Homo sapiens: one gene and its partners. The protein of the gene in region 5 purifies or fractionates together with the protein of the main gene of each other region. This does not show direct contact. Each region holds a gene or a part of one and is shown on either strand. Other genes may lie near its edges.

What was found.
Region 1: the proteins of TAF8 (region 5) and TAF9B purify together in Homo sapiens (affinity purification with mass spectrometry; 4 studies listed by BioGRID and IntAct, with this or other methods). This does not show direct contact.
Region 2: the proteins of TAF8 (region 5) and MOAP1 purify together in Homo sapiens (co-immunoprecipitation; one large-scale study listed by IntAct). This does not show direct contact.
Region 3: the proteins of TAF8 (region 5) and ATE1 purify together in Homo sapiens (co-immunoprecipitation; one large-scale study listed by IntAct). This does not show direct contact.
Region 4: the proteins of TAF8 (region 5) and ZDHHC17 purify together in Homo sapiens (affinity purification with mass spectrometry; 3 studies listed by BioGRID and IntAct, with this or other methods). This does not show direct contact.

The regions. Positions count from the first base shown.
Region 1 is NC_000023.11:78,129,636-78,133,153, forward strand, and holds the end of TAF9B (transcription initiation factor TFIID subunit 9B), read right to left. Parts: intron 2,139-3,518; coding exon 1,975-2,138; 3' UTR 113-1,974; downstream 1-112. UniProt on the Homo sapiens protein: Essential for cell viability. TAF9 and TAF9B are involved in transcriptional activation as well as repression of distinct but overlapping sets of genes. May have a role in gene regulation associated with apoptosis.
Region 2 is NC_000014.9:93,182,090-93,186,314, reverse strand, and holds MOAP1 (modulator of apoptosis 1), read left to right. Parts: upstream 1-1,417; 5' UTR 1,418-1,505; intron 1,506-1,601; 5' UTR 1,602-1,756; intron 1,757-1,952; 5' UTR 1,953-2,072; coding exon 2,073-3,128; 3' UTR 3,129-4,116; downstream 4,117-4,225. Other genes in the region: LYSET (lysosomal enzyme trafficking factor), read right to left, coding at 1-55, 830-909.
Region 3 is NC_000010.11:121,739,921-121,743,046, forward strand, and holds the end of ATE1 (arginyl-tRNA--protein transferase 1), read right to left. Parts: 3' UTR 504-3,126; downstream 1-503. UniProt on the Homo sapiens protein: Involved in the post-translational conjugation of arginine to the N-terminal aspartate or glutamate of a protein. This arginylation is required for degradation of the protein via the ubiquitin pathway. Does not arginylate cysteine residues.
Region 4 is NC_000012.12:76,847,597-76,851,114, reverse strand, and holds part of ZDHHC17 (palmitoyltransferase ZDHHC17), read right to left. Parts: intron 2,883-3,518; coding exon 2,725-2,882; intron 1,740-2,724; coding exon 1,645-1,739; intron 269-1,644; coding exon 130-268; 3' UTR 1-129. UniProt on the Homo sapiens protein: Palmitoyltransferase that catalyzes the addition of palmitate onto various protein substrates and is involved in a variety of cellular processes.
Region 5 is NC_000006.12:42,064,013-42,067,530, reverse strand, and holds part of TAF8 (transcription initiation factor TFIID subunit 8), read right to left. Parts: intron 1,220-3,518; coding exon 1,072-1,219; intron 1-1,071. UniProt on the Homo sapiens protein: The TFIID basal transcription factor complex plays a major role in the initiation of RNA polymerase II (Pol II)-dependent transcription.

The DNA of each region.
Region 1 (3,518 bases), on a different chromosome or scaffold from region 5:
AAGCAAGTGATTTTCTGATATATAACCATTAAACAAATCTTACTGGTCTTTGGCCATCAGAATTACTGGGCTTTGTTCATCTCCCTTGAATCCTAAAAAATGAAAACACTGATAAGCTCAAATTTTTATTAACCTTGGAACAAATGCAATAATTCCTTACAGTCATATAGCATTTTACAATTCTGAAAGAATTTTCACATATACCAATTGAACCCTCACAACAGCCCTGTGAGGTAGGCAGGGTAGGTGTTACTTTCCTACTGCTAGTGAGGAGAACAAGGCTAAGAGGTGAAGTAAGGTCACACAGTTGGTAAATGATGGAGCTAGGACTAGAACCTAGGCCTTCTGACTTGCTGCCTCCCTGAGAACATTCAAGTAATAATATCCTATGCTATATAATGAATATTTATCTCCTATGATGTTGATCAGGTCTATTTTTATACATTTTACCTGTTTTTATATTACCTTTCCCTAATACTGAAAAACACTAAAACTGATACGAGACATTTGAGACATTTCTTCTCTGTTACTGGACTTTCTTAGATATATCAAACACTATCCTAAGATGAAACTTCTGTTTTGAGGATCCTTGGCTATAAATTCTCAATTATGATACGAACATTTATTTTACAAATTCTACAAAAGTATGTTGAACTTAAGAAAAACAAAACAGGTGTGTTTATATTCTCAAAAGCTTTGCCATCTTTCCCAATATGACTTTAATATGTGTATAAATGGAAAACAGGGAAAGGTGTTCAGCAACATTACAGTATTATTGGGAAACCTATGCAGAGTGCACATAAATGCAAGTTACATCACATTAATTTGTTTTCTTTGTTGGCCTTATAGAGGATGAACCATTAGTGTCTTTCAGGTTTGATCCTGTCTTATATGTGACATCCTCAGCAACAAGCTAAAATGATCTGAATTATACCAATAGCGGGGCTCAAGCAGCAGTGATCAAAACATAATATGTATGTGGTAAAAAGGAACACTTGTTCTTCAGTGGTTTTGCCTAGGTCCAGTGTAATTACTTATCAAAACATGTTTTAAGCTACAGCATCTCTGTTAAATTTAGAAATGTGAAACATGGAAGAGTTATCAACTTGGAATACAATACTAAAACTGAATATAACTGACCCAAAACTACCTGTCAAAAGCACAGTAAAGCTTAACAGGCATAAAAACTAAGGGGTAAAACCCAACTGCTCTGACATAAGAGTGAAAAACAGCAAATGCAAACCATCAGGTTAAAGTGAATCACAAAACATTAGGCATGTAGAGCATGTTTTAAAAATAGGAAAATGACACTGAGCTGTATTACCAGGAATAATATTTTTAAAATTCCAGGTATGGCCTTCTACATTTAATAGCAATGGAGAGAAACAAGCCTATGGGGGAGGTGCAGAAAATGAATGGGATCTAGAAAGGGAGTTGAGTTTGGAAGTTAAGGAAGTCAAAGAAACAAATACATCCAAAATGGATTTAGAATCTCTCCTCTAAATCCATCCTTTCCAAAAAATGTTTCCTATATTGAGAGATTTGGTAAAAAAAAAAAAATTAGCTAGTGACAGTAAGTAACTATATTACCTTATAAAATAAAGTAGTATTTAAATGTAGATCAGAAATTATGCTGTCAAAGATAAATCTGCTGACTAGGCTGTAGAATCTGAAACTTAAATGCTACTATCAGTGATAGAAGGCAGAAAAGTGTCTCAAAAACAGAATTGCCATATTAGGACTCAACATTAATGAAACTATTAAGAAACAAGTACTTAACTGTTTGTAATTGAAGCCTACTGAAAAACACATTTGTATGTTTACTAAAGAGATCTAACAGTTTTAACTGACGAAAAATACTGCAGCTACATTTCAGTCTTTTAAGGTAAAACAAGATCTAGAATATTCTAGTTCAGTATACTGGGCTCAAAACCAACTTTCCTTTTGAAATGCATCTAGACTAGACTATATTCCTTACATAATATCATTGTCATCATCATCTTCATGTTTTCTCTTCAGTGGGTTTGCTTCATTGGCTGTGTTCTGTGACGAAACCATGTTGGTGGTAATAAGAATATTTTTGGGCCCAATCATTGAAGGATTAATCAGAACATTTTGAACTGCAGTTGTTGCAGGAACTGTAAACAGAGAAGAAAGCCCCCCCAAAACCAAGCTATGAATTACCCAGAATCTGAAACATATGATAAAAAGTATACAACAAAGCTGAATGTAATTCTAATACCAATTTCAATAGCATGAAGTGCAACTATATCATAGAAGAAACATAGGTACTTATACTGCAATGAGTTGAATTAAATTTTAAAAAATCTTTATTTTTAATTGGCAAATAATAATTGTGTATTTATTTTTAAATTACTATTTTTTTGAGACAGTGTCTCGCTCTGTCGTCCAAGCTGGCGTGATCTTGGCTCACTGCAACCTCCGCCTCCTGAGTTCAAGTGATTCTCGTGCCTCAGGTTCCCAAGTAGCCGGGATTATAGGCGTGTACCACCAAACCTGGCTAATTTTTGTATTTTCAGTAGAGACGGGGTTTCACCACGTTGGCCAGGCTGGTCTCGAACTCCTGGCCTCAAGTGATCCTCCCGCCTCGGTCTCCCAAAGTGCTGGGATTACAGGTGTGAGCCATTGTACCCTGCCAATAATTGTGTATATGTACGGGATATAATGTGATGTTCTGATCTATGTATAGATAAAGATTAAACATATCTAGTACAAGGTTGAAGAAGTTCTGTTGTATTTTAACAACCTAGAATTTCAATTTAGTCATGGGAAACTGCACTGGATTCATCATGCAACATATTAAACAAAGGCCTATGTTCAAGGTCAGGAATCACTTCCCTAATAGGCCAGTATTTTACGTTAGTTGCTTATTGTGTGTGGTTAGGTTTCAGAAGATATGAAATCTAGACATACACATTAGTAAACTGTGCTATGACAGAATTCTTATTCCAATCTGTGTGTGTGTGTGTGTGTGTGTGTGTGTGTGTGTGTGTATCCTATGAAGTAAAGGTACAATTTCATTTGAATTTACATTTATGTTCTGGATTGCATACACATATTCATCACTAAGTTTTGTCGCTTTCTTGAGCTTTTACCTTAACTGCTTTTCCTTGAAGACGACTTAGATTTGTGGACCCTAACTGTTTAGCTGACGGTGTTCTTTGAAAATCTGATGAACACACTGAATACTCTTTCCCTCCTCCCCAAAACGTTACATATATAGTAGTCCCCCCTTATCTGCAGTTTCAGCTACTTGTGGTCAACTGCGATCCAAAAATAGATGAGTACAGTACAGTAAGATACTTTGAGAGATCACACTCACATATATTTTATTACAGTATGTTGTTGTAATTGTTAATTAATTATTGTTAATTTCTTGCCGTGCCTAATTTATAAATTAAACCTTATAATTTAGAAAGTTTATAAATTTAACTTTAAAGGTTGTAAATTTAACTGGGGGTCTTGGAACAATCCCTCAAGGATAAGGGGGGAGACTA
Region 2 (4,225 bases), on a different chromosome or scaffold from region 5:
CACTCCAATCCATCCCATCCGCTGACGGAAGTTCATCATTCTCCATGCTCTGTGCCTTCAAATTAAAAAAGAAAATACAATTAGGGTCTAGTAATGCTGTCACGGCAACTACTCCAAATGTACTTGCTTTATCTCCAAGAATTCTAGGCCGGGCGCGGTGGCTCGCGCCTGTAATCCCAGCACTTTGGGAGGCTGAGGCGGGTGGATCACGAGGTCAGGTGATAGAGACCATCCTGGCTAACATGGTGAAATCCCGTCTCTACTAAAAATACAAAAAAAATAGCCGGGCGTGGTGGCGGGCACCTGTAGTCCCAGCTACTCGGGAGGCTGAGGCAGGAGAATGGCGTGAACCCAGGAGGCAGAGCTTGCAGAGAGCCGAGATCACGCCACTGCACTCCAGCCTGGGCGACAGAGCGAGACTCTGTCTAATTAAAAAAAAAAAAAAAGAATTCTAAAATATCCCACTAACACACTTAAGATTTAAAATAATTAAATTAAACACCTATTAAGAAATGTAAAACTTACAGGTTGTTTTGTGTAATACTTACAATCAAGTAAAACAACACACACAAAAAAACAAAAAACCATTGATTTCAGTATATACTGAGTTCTGCTTTTTAACGGGAATCCCTCAGAATAAATCACTGCATCCTACTTAAACAGGTCCATAATACCCGCCCTCCAGAAACTGGAATTAAACTAGTTTCTCACAGCACATTTCACTTTGACAGGTGAAACACTTTCTGGCATAACAGTACTGCTTCAGACGTGAACGCGGGGTGCTACAAGTCAAGCCCCCAAGTTAAGACAGTAACTCCTAAGCACTTACAATGGTCCCGAAAATCTTCCTGTTCCCACGGCAAGCGTTAAAGAGTCACTCAGCTCTGAATAATCGGGTGGCTTTGGCATTTCAGAGAAAGCCAACATAAAATAAATCCCCTGGGTCACCCGGCTAGGAGAAAGGTGAGCGCCGCCAGCCTGGAGCACCAGCTACTAGTGATTAAGAACGGCGTGACTGCGGCGGGTCACGCGCGGCCCGGCCCCCGTCGCCGCCGCCGGAGACCCGCTCTGAGAACCTGACCCGGCAGGGAGGCGTCCCCGCCACTTGGGCCTCCGGGCGGCCGGCCCCGCCCCCTGCCGCGCTGCAGCGCCGGCACGCCGCGACCAAGGCTGCGCAGGCGGCGCCAGGCCCGGGCCTCGCCGCCTTGCAGCGCCGCGAGCCCAGCGCCCGTCAGCGGTCGCCGGCGGAGCCTGCTTGCAAAGCTGAGGTCCCGGATCTCACCTTCCTGTCCCGTGGTGGCCAGCCCGCCCGCCGTCCCGGATGCCGCCGCAGTCGGAGCTTCCGGCTCGGGCCGGAAGCGCGCGCGCCCCGCCCCCGAGGCCCGCCCCTCATGACGTCAGATCGCCCCCGCCCGCCGCGCAGCTTCCCCGAGCGAGACCAAAACAGGTGGAATCCGGGCTGGAGCCGGAGCTCCGGCGGCGCGGGTGGCGGCACGTCCCTCCAGGTGGGTGGCTCTCTGGGTCTGGCGACTCAGCGCTCCTCAGCCTTGCCCCCTGGTGCCCGCTCGCGACTGTCATCGCCCCATCACTTCTCGTTGCAGACAGTACCACAGGCACCTGGAGTACCGGCATCGGTCGCTGTGGCCCCCGAGTGTCCGTCAGAGCCTAGGGGAGCCTGCCCTCCCGCGCCTCGTCGGGGCCCGGCCAGGCACCTTGGCCGCCGGCGCACGGACGCGGGCACGAGCACTAGATCACGGTGAGTGGAAGCGGGCCCGACGCGGCCCTGCAGGCCCGACATCCGCCAGGCACCAGGGCTGGGAGGGGTGAGGGGCGCGCGCCGCAGTGCGGCTGCCCTGGCGTCGCCGCTGGGGGCAGGGCGCGCGGGGCTTGGGGCCTGCACGCTTGCCCTGGACGTTGGCACCTTTAGCTAACCTGTCTGCTCTGTCTTGCAGGCTGCTGGACCTCGGCACGTTGACAAGATTTCTCTGGGGTACCGCGGAGGATTACTTTGAATTTCGGTGGTCGCCTGTGGTCTGGCATATTTAGAACTTAAGTCTATTATTTCGGGCACCATGACTTTGAGGCTTTTAGAAGACTGGTGCAGGGGGATGGACATGAACCCTCGGAAAGCGCTATTGATTGCCGGCATCTCCCAGAGCTGCAGTGTGGCAGAAATCGAGGAGGCTCTGCAGGCTGGTTTAGCTCCCTTGGGGGAGTACAGACTGCTTGGAAGGATGTTCAGGAGGGATGAGAACAGGAAAGTAGCCTTAGTAGGGCTTACTGCGGAGACTAGTCACGCCCTGGTCCCTAAGGAGATACCGGGAAAAGGGGGTATCTGGAGAGTGATCTTTAAGCCCCCTGACCCAGATAATACATTTTTAAGCAGATTAAATGAATTTTTAGCGGGAGAGGGCATGACAGTGGGTGAGTTGAGCAGAGCTCTTGGACATGAAAATGGCTCCTTAGACCCAGAGCAGGGCATGATCCCGGAAATGTGGGCCCCTATGTTGGCACAGGCATTAGAGGCTCTTCAGCCTGCCCTGCAATGCTTGAAGTATAAAAAGCTGAGAGTGTTCTCGGGCAGGGAGTCTCCAGAACCAGGAGAAGAAGAATTTGGACGCTGGATGTTTCATACTACTCAGATGATAAAGGCGTGGCAGGTGCCAGATGTAGAGAAGAGAAGGCGATTGCTAGAGAGCCTTCGAGGCCCAGCACTTGATGTTATTCGTGTCCTCAAGATAAACAATCCTTTAATTACTGTCGATGAATGTCTGCAGGCTCTTGAGGAGGTATTTGGGGTTACAGATAATCCTAGGGAGTTGCAGGTCAAATATCTAACCACTTACCAGAAGGATGAGGAAAAGTTGTCGGCTTATGTACTAAGGCTGGAGCCTTTGTTACAGAAGCTGGTACAGAGAGGAGCAATTGAGAGAGATGCTGTGAATCAGGCCCGCCTAGACCAAGTCATTGCTGGGGCAGTCCACAAAACAATTCGCAGAGAGCTTAATCTGCCAGAGGATGGCCCAGCCCCTGGTTTCTTGCAGTTATTGGTACTAATAAAGGATTATGAGGCAGCTGAGGAGGAGGAGGCCCTTCTCCAGGCAATATTGGAAGGTAATTTCACCTGAGTCTCAGGGAACCACGAAGGGATATGGCAATGAGTAGAGCATGAAGGTAGAACAGTCTATATACTCTTGTGACACATACAATCCCTACCTTGTGCTGCCAAGTAACTCATTTTTGTGCAATTCTCAGTATAAGCCCTTTGTCGTTTCTGTGCCTATTTAAAGTCTCCTAAAGGTGTAATTGACTAGGAAGGATGTAGTTCTACACTGCCATTTACCTATTTAAATTCATCCTTGTGAATATCTTTGTTGTTGTTGTTGAGACAGAGTCTCGCTCTGTCACCCAGGCTGGAGTGCAGTGGCGTGATCTTGGCTCACTGCATCCTCCGCCTTCCAGGTTTAAGCTATTCTCCTGCCTCAGTTGCCCGAGTAGCTGGGACTACAGGCATGTGCCACCACGCCCAGCTAAGTTTTGCATTATCAGTAGAGACGGGGTTTCACCATGTTGGCCAGGCTAGTTTCGAACTCCTGACCTCAAGTGATCCACCTGCTTCGGCCTCTGAAAGTGCTGGGATTACAGGCGTGAGACACTGCGCCCAGCCTCATCCCTGTGAATTTCTTATTGTACACAAGTTCTTTCACTATCTGTGTGCAGTGCTCTGAGGGGACAGACAAGGCTTGGGTGTATATGCCAACCAGATCTCATTGAAGTATCAGCTTGTTTGGTACTAGGTGCAAGTGTAGCATGTCACATGTGACCATGTTGGATCATTGACAATTTTTAGGTATGTACTGACCTACATTTATGATGAAGATCCTGAGCGGAGGTTAAGATATTAAGTTATTTTCCATATGAATCAGAATTATATTGATTCTGTGCAATCAAAACAAAAGGCAGAATAGAATGCTGAGATTGGTTAAGTTTGCAATGACCATCTTGAACCACAGATTTCTGCTATGTGTCATCAAAACATCTAGTTCTGAGTAACATTTTCACGATTGTTATAAAATTATAGGTGTGAACTTCTAAAATAAAGGAATGCTAATAAAATGACTTTGTCTGTTTTGTTTATATCACGGTTCCAAGAGAGATTTCATTTGAATAAAGAGTTCCCAAAGCATGAATCTGCAAACCACTGAACCTACACAGACTTAGTTCC
Region 3 (3,126 bases), on a different chromosome or scaffold from region 5:
GTGGGAATTGTAACTAATATTTAAATCACTTGGAAATAGGATTCATTTTATCACCAACCTACCAGGACCCTCTTTACTGTAAAGAGATAAAACACTAGTAAATGTATTGCATAAATATACCACAGACTATTATGAACAATTAAAGCACACTTTATATTTTTTAAAATTTCTCTGTAAACGTTCTAAGATAAATTATATTTGAATTTGATAAAGTCCTATTTTGAATCCCTTTGGGTTATAAAAGTCTATTCCCTAATTTATCTTGTGAAAATCCAGACTTCTGGCTTAAAATGGGATTTACTTTACTCTCTGAGAAAGGAATCCACCGTACTTTGATTTAGATAACCACATGGTCTGGAACTCCATTTAGTGAAAATTAAATTTTATGACTCATATAGCCAATGTTTTACCTCTGTTTTCTACATATTCACAGCAGGTGAAATGTGTTCAGGAATTTAAAGATGAAAACATATGTCTTTTAAGTAATGACCACCAAGAGCCACTGCAGATAGAAACAGCTTTATTTTTTCCATTCAGGCTTTATCAAATAGCTTGTTCAAAAAGCATATACAAGAGCAAAAAATACCACATGCAGTCAAACTTCTTTTGCCTTATAGTCATTGGCTTTCTTTTAGAAAAGAGTGTGCACTTGAATAACTTCTAATTCAAACATTTTCCAACTGTTTCTACTTCATTTTTCAAGTTAGCAACGACAGATACATTTTAGTTAACTGTTTCATATTCCTTATCTTTATTCATACTGAAATAATATAAAGCCTATAAAATCAAAGCATATACTGTTCAGAAATCTGGAAAGGTTCTTTTACATAATAGATTCTGACACGTTAAGAAACTACACACAACAAATATTTGCAAAATGAATGAAAAATAGGATAAAGCTATTTAAAAGTCAACATAGTAATATTTATCTAAATAATTTTAATCAAATGTACAACATATTTATCTGATATCATCTATCTTTTAGAATACAAAAAAGTGCTCAGATTACATTTAAAAAAATAACAAAAATCTCTTAGAATGGAAATAATTTAAATAAGGACGGTAGCAAGGGGAATTGAAATTACATCTTTGCTCCCAAAACAGGAAGGCAGGTGTGATGTATTTGAAAATCAGAAAGGGACACAACACTAAGATTGCAAATGCAAAGCTTCCTGCCTTGGAAAGATATAAACTGTCTTTGAAAAGTCCTTGTGTCTTTCTTTACAGAAAGTTACGAACATAAAATCAGATCTCTCAGCTAGACTGCTGGTCAAGTAACAAGGTGGGTCACTTTTCTTGACTATGCTTTTCTAGTCCACTATCAGTATTCACTCAGCTGGGGCTCAAAAGGACAAATAGGTGTCCTTTTAAGACACTTTGACTACTTGGATCAATACACTAGCTATTCTCAAACCAACATAATGCATGAATACAGCAGCCAAGTAGAAGGATCTCCAATGCTCAAGTCACTCTGAGTCTTTGCTGGTGTCAACCTACAATGCCACCCTCAAGGAAAGCACAGTGGTTCACAGACAGGGATGATTCATCATTTTCCTCTGAAAATGAATTCTGCAGGAAGAAACCAGAGTTGTGGTAAGATGTTGGAGTCAAGTTTTCTCTTCATCTGATATTCAAGGGTTGTGATCTTTATGAATACCATTTTACATGCTAATCACAAAGACAAATGGAGGGAAGATACAGTGATAACACCAAGTTGGACATTCAAATGCTAAGCGAGCCAAGTACCAGCCCTACCCTGCTTATTTTTAATAATGCAGAGATTACTTACTACACTTTCTGAAGCCTTATTTTGAAATTTATTTCACATTTCAGACATGTCCATAATTTACTGTTGAGGAAATAAAACAGCATGTAGAACATAATTCTATTTATATTAAAATTACATAGGTATGTGTGTATACATACATGACAGTTCTTTTCTCCTTCTGAGTATGGTAGGGTTGTAGATGATTTTTACTTTTTATTTATACTTCTTAATGTTCTAACTGCTTACAGTGTCACTTTTGTTATAATCATAAAATGAAGCTCTTTTCATTTTAGAGGAAAAAGAGAAAAAAGGCTCTATAGATTCTGAAGGCAGTTCCAAGTAAGTCTCTCAAATGCTCTTACGAGACTACTTTGCAGGTCAAAATCCCAGAAAAATGTAAAATCTTGTGATCAGAGAAAATGGCTTTGCTCACTACTCTAGCTCGGTTAGCAGAGTACGCAGCACCTTGGCAGGTGTGACACACACACTCTGAATGAAGAAATGCGGCTGACTTGGATGTTGAGTTTCTAGAGATTTCAGTTTTAAAATCATTGTTTTATGATCCTTTTTATTCTAGTTAGCTGAGGATATTTTCAAATTTTTGTCAAAATTCAGTACATTTTAGAGGAAAGTTTAAAATTAGCAACAGGATTCAAACTACCATGTTTTATAACATGGCTTTTAAGAAACGATGAACCAAAACAGAAAAATGGGCAAAGTGGGGACTAAAAACGGCTTGCTGGCCAAATAGCTGGTAGCAGAAGAGGGGATCAGCTGACAAAGAGGGCACAAGAAAATAACCCTCCTGTTTTTCATCCTGTTTCCCAGACAGCTCGACTATAGCTAAGAAGGGACATGTCTGACTGTCCTCCTGTACCCAGCACAGTGCCTGCCACCTTGACAGGTGGGCAAAGGACTCAGCAAAAGAAAGTGAGGGAAGGAGGGGGCTGGCCTCTGCTCTGAGTTACTAAGGGTGGCAGAAGCCACCCTGACTGTGACTCTCAAATCAAAGGACAAGAAATGGATTGTTCTAGCTCTTGTCCTGGAACAGAGGTCGGAATGATTCCTTCTTCAATGTGATTTGTGGCATAACTATGAAAGTAATCACATACTAATTTCCATTAATAACCAAAGACAAATGTCCTGAGTTGTAAGATAAAAAACTAGTGACTATTTATTTCCTTTGGATGAGACTTAGATCAAGGCAGGAACCAACATTTTTCTTTAAAAAAATTCAATTTCTTACATTTTTAGAAGTAAAGCAAATAATATAACTAGAGTAATTATGTATTTTATTGTCCAAACTGGGATATTTTTTAGAGTAAAAGGGAGTACTATATTCTAGGGGAAAAAACTAT
Region 4 (3,518 bases), on a different chromosome or scaffold from region 5:
AAAATTCACCATTAGCCCTACACATAGCATGCTCTTGTTCAAAGGATGTGGATTCGAGTGTGAGAAAGACACGGACAGACACAATTTTCAGGCACCACTCAGCAATATGCTTCATAGGATAAGATGTCGCTACACCAGCTGGTACCCAGATCCTGATATTTGGTCATATTCTATTGTATACTGCCTGGTCCAGTCCACGATAACAGGACGAAAGAGGCCACAGCATCGAAATTCAAAGAAGTCTATAATATTTCTTACACATCCATGGCTAAAAACAGCACCCCAAAAAGAAAACACGTCAGTCAGTACAAATGATTTAATACATGAATTCAATATAATTTTCGTGTTAAATATATTTTTTTCTAAACTTAAAAACTCAGGTTACTTGCAAGAAGGAACCAATTCATAACTCTATAAAATATATATGCCTTCATGTTTCTCCACTGCTCTGCCAACAATGATTTTTTCTTTTGCCAATTTAAAGACTTACACAATTATATTTTAAATTTATTCAAATGTGCATATACTTTCTGTGTTATATGCATTTTTATTTTTATTTTTAGAGATGAGGTCTTAACTATGTTGCCCGGCCTGGCCTCGAACTCTGGGCTCAAGCAATCCTCTCACCTCAGCCTCCCAAGTAGCTAGGACTACAGACATGCACCAACATGCCTGGCTCCATATGTAATTTTTGATAAAAACCTTTAATTAGTGGCTCTTTGGCAGGAGACAAACTATCTCTAAAACAGAAAAAAAGTAAAAGACAAAATAATTATAAATAGCATGAATCTGGCAGTGAACCTAAGGATAACAACTTAAAAAAGAAATGTCAAGGATAAGTTCATGAAATTTTAGTACTCCAGTAACACCTTTAGAAAAGCAGTCAGTTTTGGCCAGGTGCGCACCAGTGGTTCACGTCGGTAAGTAATCCTAGCACTTTGGGAGGCCGAGGCGGGTGGATCATGAGGTCAGGAGTTCAGGACCAGCCTGGCCAAGATGGTGAAACCCCATCTCTACTAAAAATACAAAAACTAGCTGGGCGTGGTGCATGCCTGTAATCCCAGCTACTCAGGAGGCTGAGGCAGAGAAGTGCTTAAACCCAGGAGGTGGAGGTAGCAGTGAGCCGAGATCATGCCACTGCACTCCAGCCTGGGTGACAGAGCAAGACTCTGTCTAAAAAAAAGAAAAGAAAAGCAGTCAGTTTTGTGCCTTATATAATTTTTGTACCTATGGGAGAATTCTCAAAACTACCCAACTAACTCTGTTTTTATTTAAAGGTCTGCTTGCTTTCCAGAAGTATGCCATAATTGACAGCACCACAAAAGCTGAAGAGTTGGTAATAACTTCAGTAAAACTCAAAGTTTTAAATATTTCATATACTTAGGACCCTACTATTTCTAAGCACCAGACTGAATACAAATTTAAAATTAAAAAGAAAAAAATATAAGGAGATATCACAACTTTATTATATACAGTTAATGTGATGAATTCTGTTTTGTTGTTATTATGGTGAACTGATGCTATTTCTACAGAAATCTTAAAAAGGTTTAAAAGCTATTTTACATATCACTAAGTAAAAGAGTCTGGTTAGTAAGAAAATTTTTATGACCAGGTAAAATATTAAATTTATAAATATGTACATACTTGAATGGGCTTTCAATAGACGTTGTTGTGACTTTAAAGTGCTTGTATCTCCTGGCATTCATTCTTTCATTTGTAGTAATACCTAAACATGATATCTAAGAGGAAAGAAAAAGCAAACCATTATTCTTGTTTTTTTTTTTTTTTTTTGAGACAGGACCTTGCCCTGTCACCCAGGCTAAAATGCAATGGCGAATTCTCAGCTCCCTCTTGGGTGGGCTCAAGTGATTCCACCCCCGCCACCTCCCCCCACCCCAAAACCCCCACCCCACCAGCAGCTGGGATTACAGGCGCATGCACCATGCCCGGCTAATTTTCTTTTTTTTGTTGGGTTTTTTTTTTTTTTTTTTTTTTTAGAGATAGGGTTTAACCATGTTGCCCAGGCTGATCTCAAACTCCTGGGCTCAAGTGATCCGCCCACCTCGGCTTCCAAGTGCTGGGATTACAGGTGTGAGCCACCATGCCAGGCTGCACAAACCATTATTCTTTCTAAATACTTAATATAAAAAAATTAATTTGAAGAAAACTAGGATAAAGATAAAAACAATGAAGTCTGTTTTTGGTTTTCCATCAGGAGATCATCAGAACTAGTTTACGTGGTATCATTTGACTGTGAAAAGTAGCCAGTTAAATGTGGAAAATATTTAAAGACAGGTTACTTGACACTGTGCATGGACAGGCGCTATTCCTGCACAGACAACCTCCCTATCAGCCTCTCTGAGAATGAGCTTTTAAAAATTAAAAAAAGGCTTTTGAATAAATATTAGTATTTGTGAATAAAAATACCATTAAAAACACAAAATTAATGTCATCATCAATCTGAGCTCACACATACTCAACTGGATGTATTTAAGTCAGGAATAACAGATTAAAATTTCTGTTGAGATAAGTACTAAAATTCAAAAGTTCACAATATGAGAAGAGGAAGGGGCAAAAGAGTGAGGTAGAAAGGAAAACTAAATTGAAAAATAAAATGAATATTTGAAGAGCAGGAGTGGTTAGGAAGAGAATATATTATTATCTTTTATGCAAGGATGGAAGAGTTTTCACTTAGTGCACTAAAAAGAATGCCTTTGCACATACCTGGTACATCTGACACATGAGTAATACAGCCACCCACATGAAGTGGAAAACACTGTTCAGGAACATCCAAAACATCCAAGGTGAACACGTGGCAATCTGAGTAATGTATGTCCAAAATCCATCCTTGGTGTAAGTGGTCTCACAGTGGAGTCCCCAGTCTAAAGCCAGAACAGAAGTACTCGTATTTACTCAATAATCATCCAAGCACCTCATATAGGCATTTGTGCTGGCACCATTTAGAAAACATAGTCAAACAGTCTAGATTTAACTGATGACATTCAATAGCAAATGTCTTTATACTCTTAAATAACCCTATTATATCTCAGTGAAAAAACACAGAAATGGAAAAGGAGCAGCCAATCTTAAAAAAAAATCACTGTATCTTCAGAATTAACAATTTTATTTGATTGGTATTGCATCACATAATACTTAGAAAAACATTTTCTTTACACAAAGATGAGAGGATATATGAAAGAGATTTTTTTGAAAGAGGGCATATAACATAATAGGATGGTGACATGAGCTTTTTTTTCCAGACAAGGTCTCGCTCTGTCACCCAGGCTGGAGTGCAGTGGCTCAATCAAGGCTCACTGCAACCTCGACCTCCTGGACCCAAGCAATCCTCCCACCTCAGCCACCTGAGTAGCTGGGACTACAGGCATGCGCTACCACACCGGGCTAATTTTTGTATTTTTTGTAGAGATGGGGTCTCTCTTCCTACGTTGCCCAGGCTGGTCTCAAACTCCTGGCCTCAACTGGCCCACCTGCCTCTGCCTCCCAAAGTTTTGGGATTA
Region 5 (3,518 bases):
AAAATACTCTAGAATTGGCTGGGTGTGGTGGCTCATGCCTATAATCCCAGCACTTTGGGAGGCTGAGGCAGGCAGATCACTTGAGCTCAGGAGTTCAAGACCAACCTGGCCAACTGGGTGAAACCCCGTCTCTACTAAAAATACAAAAAATTAGCTGGGTGTGGTGGCTCCTGCCTGTAGTCCCAGCTACTTGCTGAAGCAGAAGAATCGCTGGAACCCGGGAGGCGGAGGTTGCAGTGAGCAGAGATTGCGCCACTGTATTCCAGGCTGGATGACAAAGCAAGACTCTGTCTCAAAAAAACCCACAAAAACTCCAGAATTATTTTTGCTGTGGGTCAGATGTGGGGTCCTGCAGTAAGAGCTAGGTTTGAATGATGTCTACTAGCCATGTTCCTTGAGGAAGTGACTTCATTTCTCTTCTCTTGTGCCTCATTGAAGGGTTCCTATGAAGGTAGTGATATATCAGTTCCCAACTCAGAGGCTCACAAGAGGATTTAATGAGATAATGTATGGGAAATGATGAGCACAGTATCTGGCACTTAACAACCGGCAGCTGCTGTTATTCCAGAGCCAGGCACACAGCGGGCGTTCCACAGGAGCTTGCTGAATGAATGAATCACCCAAACCAACCTCCCTCACTCACATTTGTAAAAACTGAGGTCTTTGGAAATGAAGTAGCTTGGTCAACATGGCCAAATAGTGCTGAGATGCCAAGTTAAATGAGGTGGGACCTACGAGGGAACATCACGATGGGCAACTGGCCCCTGATGCCAATGTTCTTCTACTACCTGGGCTGCCACCAAGTGTCTCTGATGCCTAGGCCTAGGCTACCCTCAAGGTAACTCTATGGACCTCAAGCAGCCAGTCCCAACAGAGACCATTACTGTTTTGGAGTCGTCAGTTAAGGACAGACTCTTAAGACCTGGGGAAGGGAGCCAGAAATCTGAGAGGCAAGCTGTACCCAAGGGAAGGACAAAAGCTTATTTGTTTCTTCCTACCATGCTGAGAGAAAGAAAAGATAATGTGAGTGTTTCAAATAAGACAGGGTCCACACAGTGGGGCAACTCTCACATGGAAATGTGCTGACGTCATCTTTGAAAAGACTCTGAGTCTCGCCTGTCTTGGCCATGAAACGGGTAAGTGCCCGCTCCACATCGCGCCTCTGGGATGCAGCCTTCTCCCGCAGGACCTGGTAGTCTGACACGGGCTCACGGTACGTCTACGAAGAGAGCAGCAAAGACACTGGGGTGATGCCGAAGTATCATTCTGCTTTCATCAGCTCCCTGGCTTGCTGTTGCTATGCCCTGTTCTCTAAAATGACCCAATACCAGGCCAGGCACAGTGGCTCACACCTGTAATCCCAGCACTTTGGGAGGCCAAGGCTGGTGGATCACCTGAGATCAGGAGTTTGAGACCAGCCTGGCCAACATAACGAAACCCCGTCTCTACCAAAAATACAAAAATTAGCTGGGTGTGGTGGTGGGCACCAGTAATCCCAGCTACTTGGGAGGCTGAGGCAGGAGAATCGCTTGAACCCAGGAGGCGGAGGTTGCAGTGAGCCGAGACTGCATCATTGCACTCCAGCCTGTGCAGCAGGAGCGAGACTCTGTCTCAAAAAATAAATAAATAAATAAAATTAAATTAAATGACCCAATACTATTAGTTAGAGCCAAGATCACCAAAGCACAGTAGAAAGGTGGAAAAACAATGTAACTACATTAATATTCATTTCTAATTAAAAATTAAGAAATGTACAAATATTTACTGTAGAGATTGTCTTGGAGCCTTCATTCAGCTCCCATGACAGATGGTCTCGGGTCTAAGAGACGCATCGTGAAGAAAGAGTGGGAGTGCCCCCAGGGAAGCCCTGATGGGGACCACAGGTTCCATCAGCGCAATGTGACCTCCTGCAGTATGGGAGTGGCTGCCTATGTGGACTTGTGGATTATACCATCCCATCTTATTAAATCAATCCTCACAATATGGATACATTGTTCCAAAAAGATTCCCTCAAAGAAAGAGAGGCTGAAGATCTTATTATACGTGCAAGTGACCAAGAAAACGGCAGGCTGCTACTCTTCCTCCTAATTATGAGCTTGCTGGCAATCAAGTTATGGAGTGAAAATGATTGAGATCAGAATGAGAAATGAGCCAAAACTTTTTATTTTATTATTTTTATTTTTTGGAGACAGAGTCTTGCTCTGTCACCCAGGCTGGAGTGCAGTGGCGCCATCTCAGCTCACTGCAACCTCCACCTCCTGGGTTCAAGCGATTCTCCTGCCTCAGACTCCTGAGTAGCTGGGACTACAGGCACGTGCCACCATGCCCAGCTAATTTTTGTATTTTTAGTAGAGATGGGGTTTCATCATGTTGGCCAGGCTGGTCTCGAACTCCTGACCTCAGATGATCCACCCACCTTGGCCTCCCAAAGTGCTGGGATTACAGGTGTGAGTCACCGCGCCCAGCCGGAAAACATTTTAATTGGTAATGGCAACGGTGACATTTTAACAACGACCAATAAAGTAACTACTCTTCATGATACTGAGATACCATTTTTTTTTTTTTTTTTTTTTTGAGACAGAGTCTTGCTCTGTCACCCAGGCTGGAGTGCAGTGGCGGGATCTCTGCTCACTGCAAGCTCCGCCCCCCGGGTGCATGCCATTCTCCTGCCTCAGCCTCCCGAGTAGCTGGGACTACAGACGCCTGCCACCACTCCTGGCTAATTTTTTTGTATTTTTAGTAGAGACGGGTTTCACTGTGTTTGCCAGGATGGTCTCGATCTCCTGACCTTGTGATCCACCCGCCTCAGCCTCCCAAAGTGCTGGGATTACAGGCTGAGATAGCATTTTTAAAGAAGGCACCTGGAAATGTTTCTTTGTTGTCACCATCAGTTCAAGTGTGTCACCTATACAGTTCTCACATCTGTACTTAAACAAAGAAACAGAATTTTCTGACGTGTTAAAAATCTTCCCAAAAGGCTGGGTGTGGTGGCTCACACCTGTAATCCCAGCACTTTGGGAGGCCGAGGCGGATAGATTACCTGAGGTCAGGAGTTTGAGACTAGCCTGGTCAACATGGTAACACCCGGTCTCTACTAAAAATACAAAAATTAGCCAGGCGTGGTGGTGGGCACCTGTAATCCCAACTACTTGGGGGAGGCTGAGACATGAGAATCGCTTGAACCTGGGAGACAGAGGTTGAAGTGAGCCGAGATCACACCACTGCACTCCAGCCTGGGGGACTGAGCGAGACTCTGTCCACCCCCCACAAAAAAACCCCAAAACTTCCCAATAATAAAATGAGTGGATTTTGAACATATTGTACTTGTTAAAAACATTAAAATGCAAAATCTTGTAATGATTCCTAAGACAACTTTTGGCACTCAATAAATTAGAAATTTAATAGAAAATTTTCAACCAAATTCTTTGGATAATGAGTAAATGAGGATGAAAAAAATTAGTTTTATGATTTATTAAGAGCAGCCAATGATGTTACATATGTTTGTGATGTACCATTTT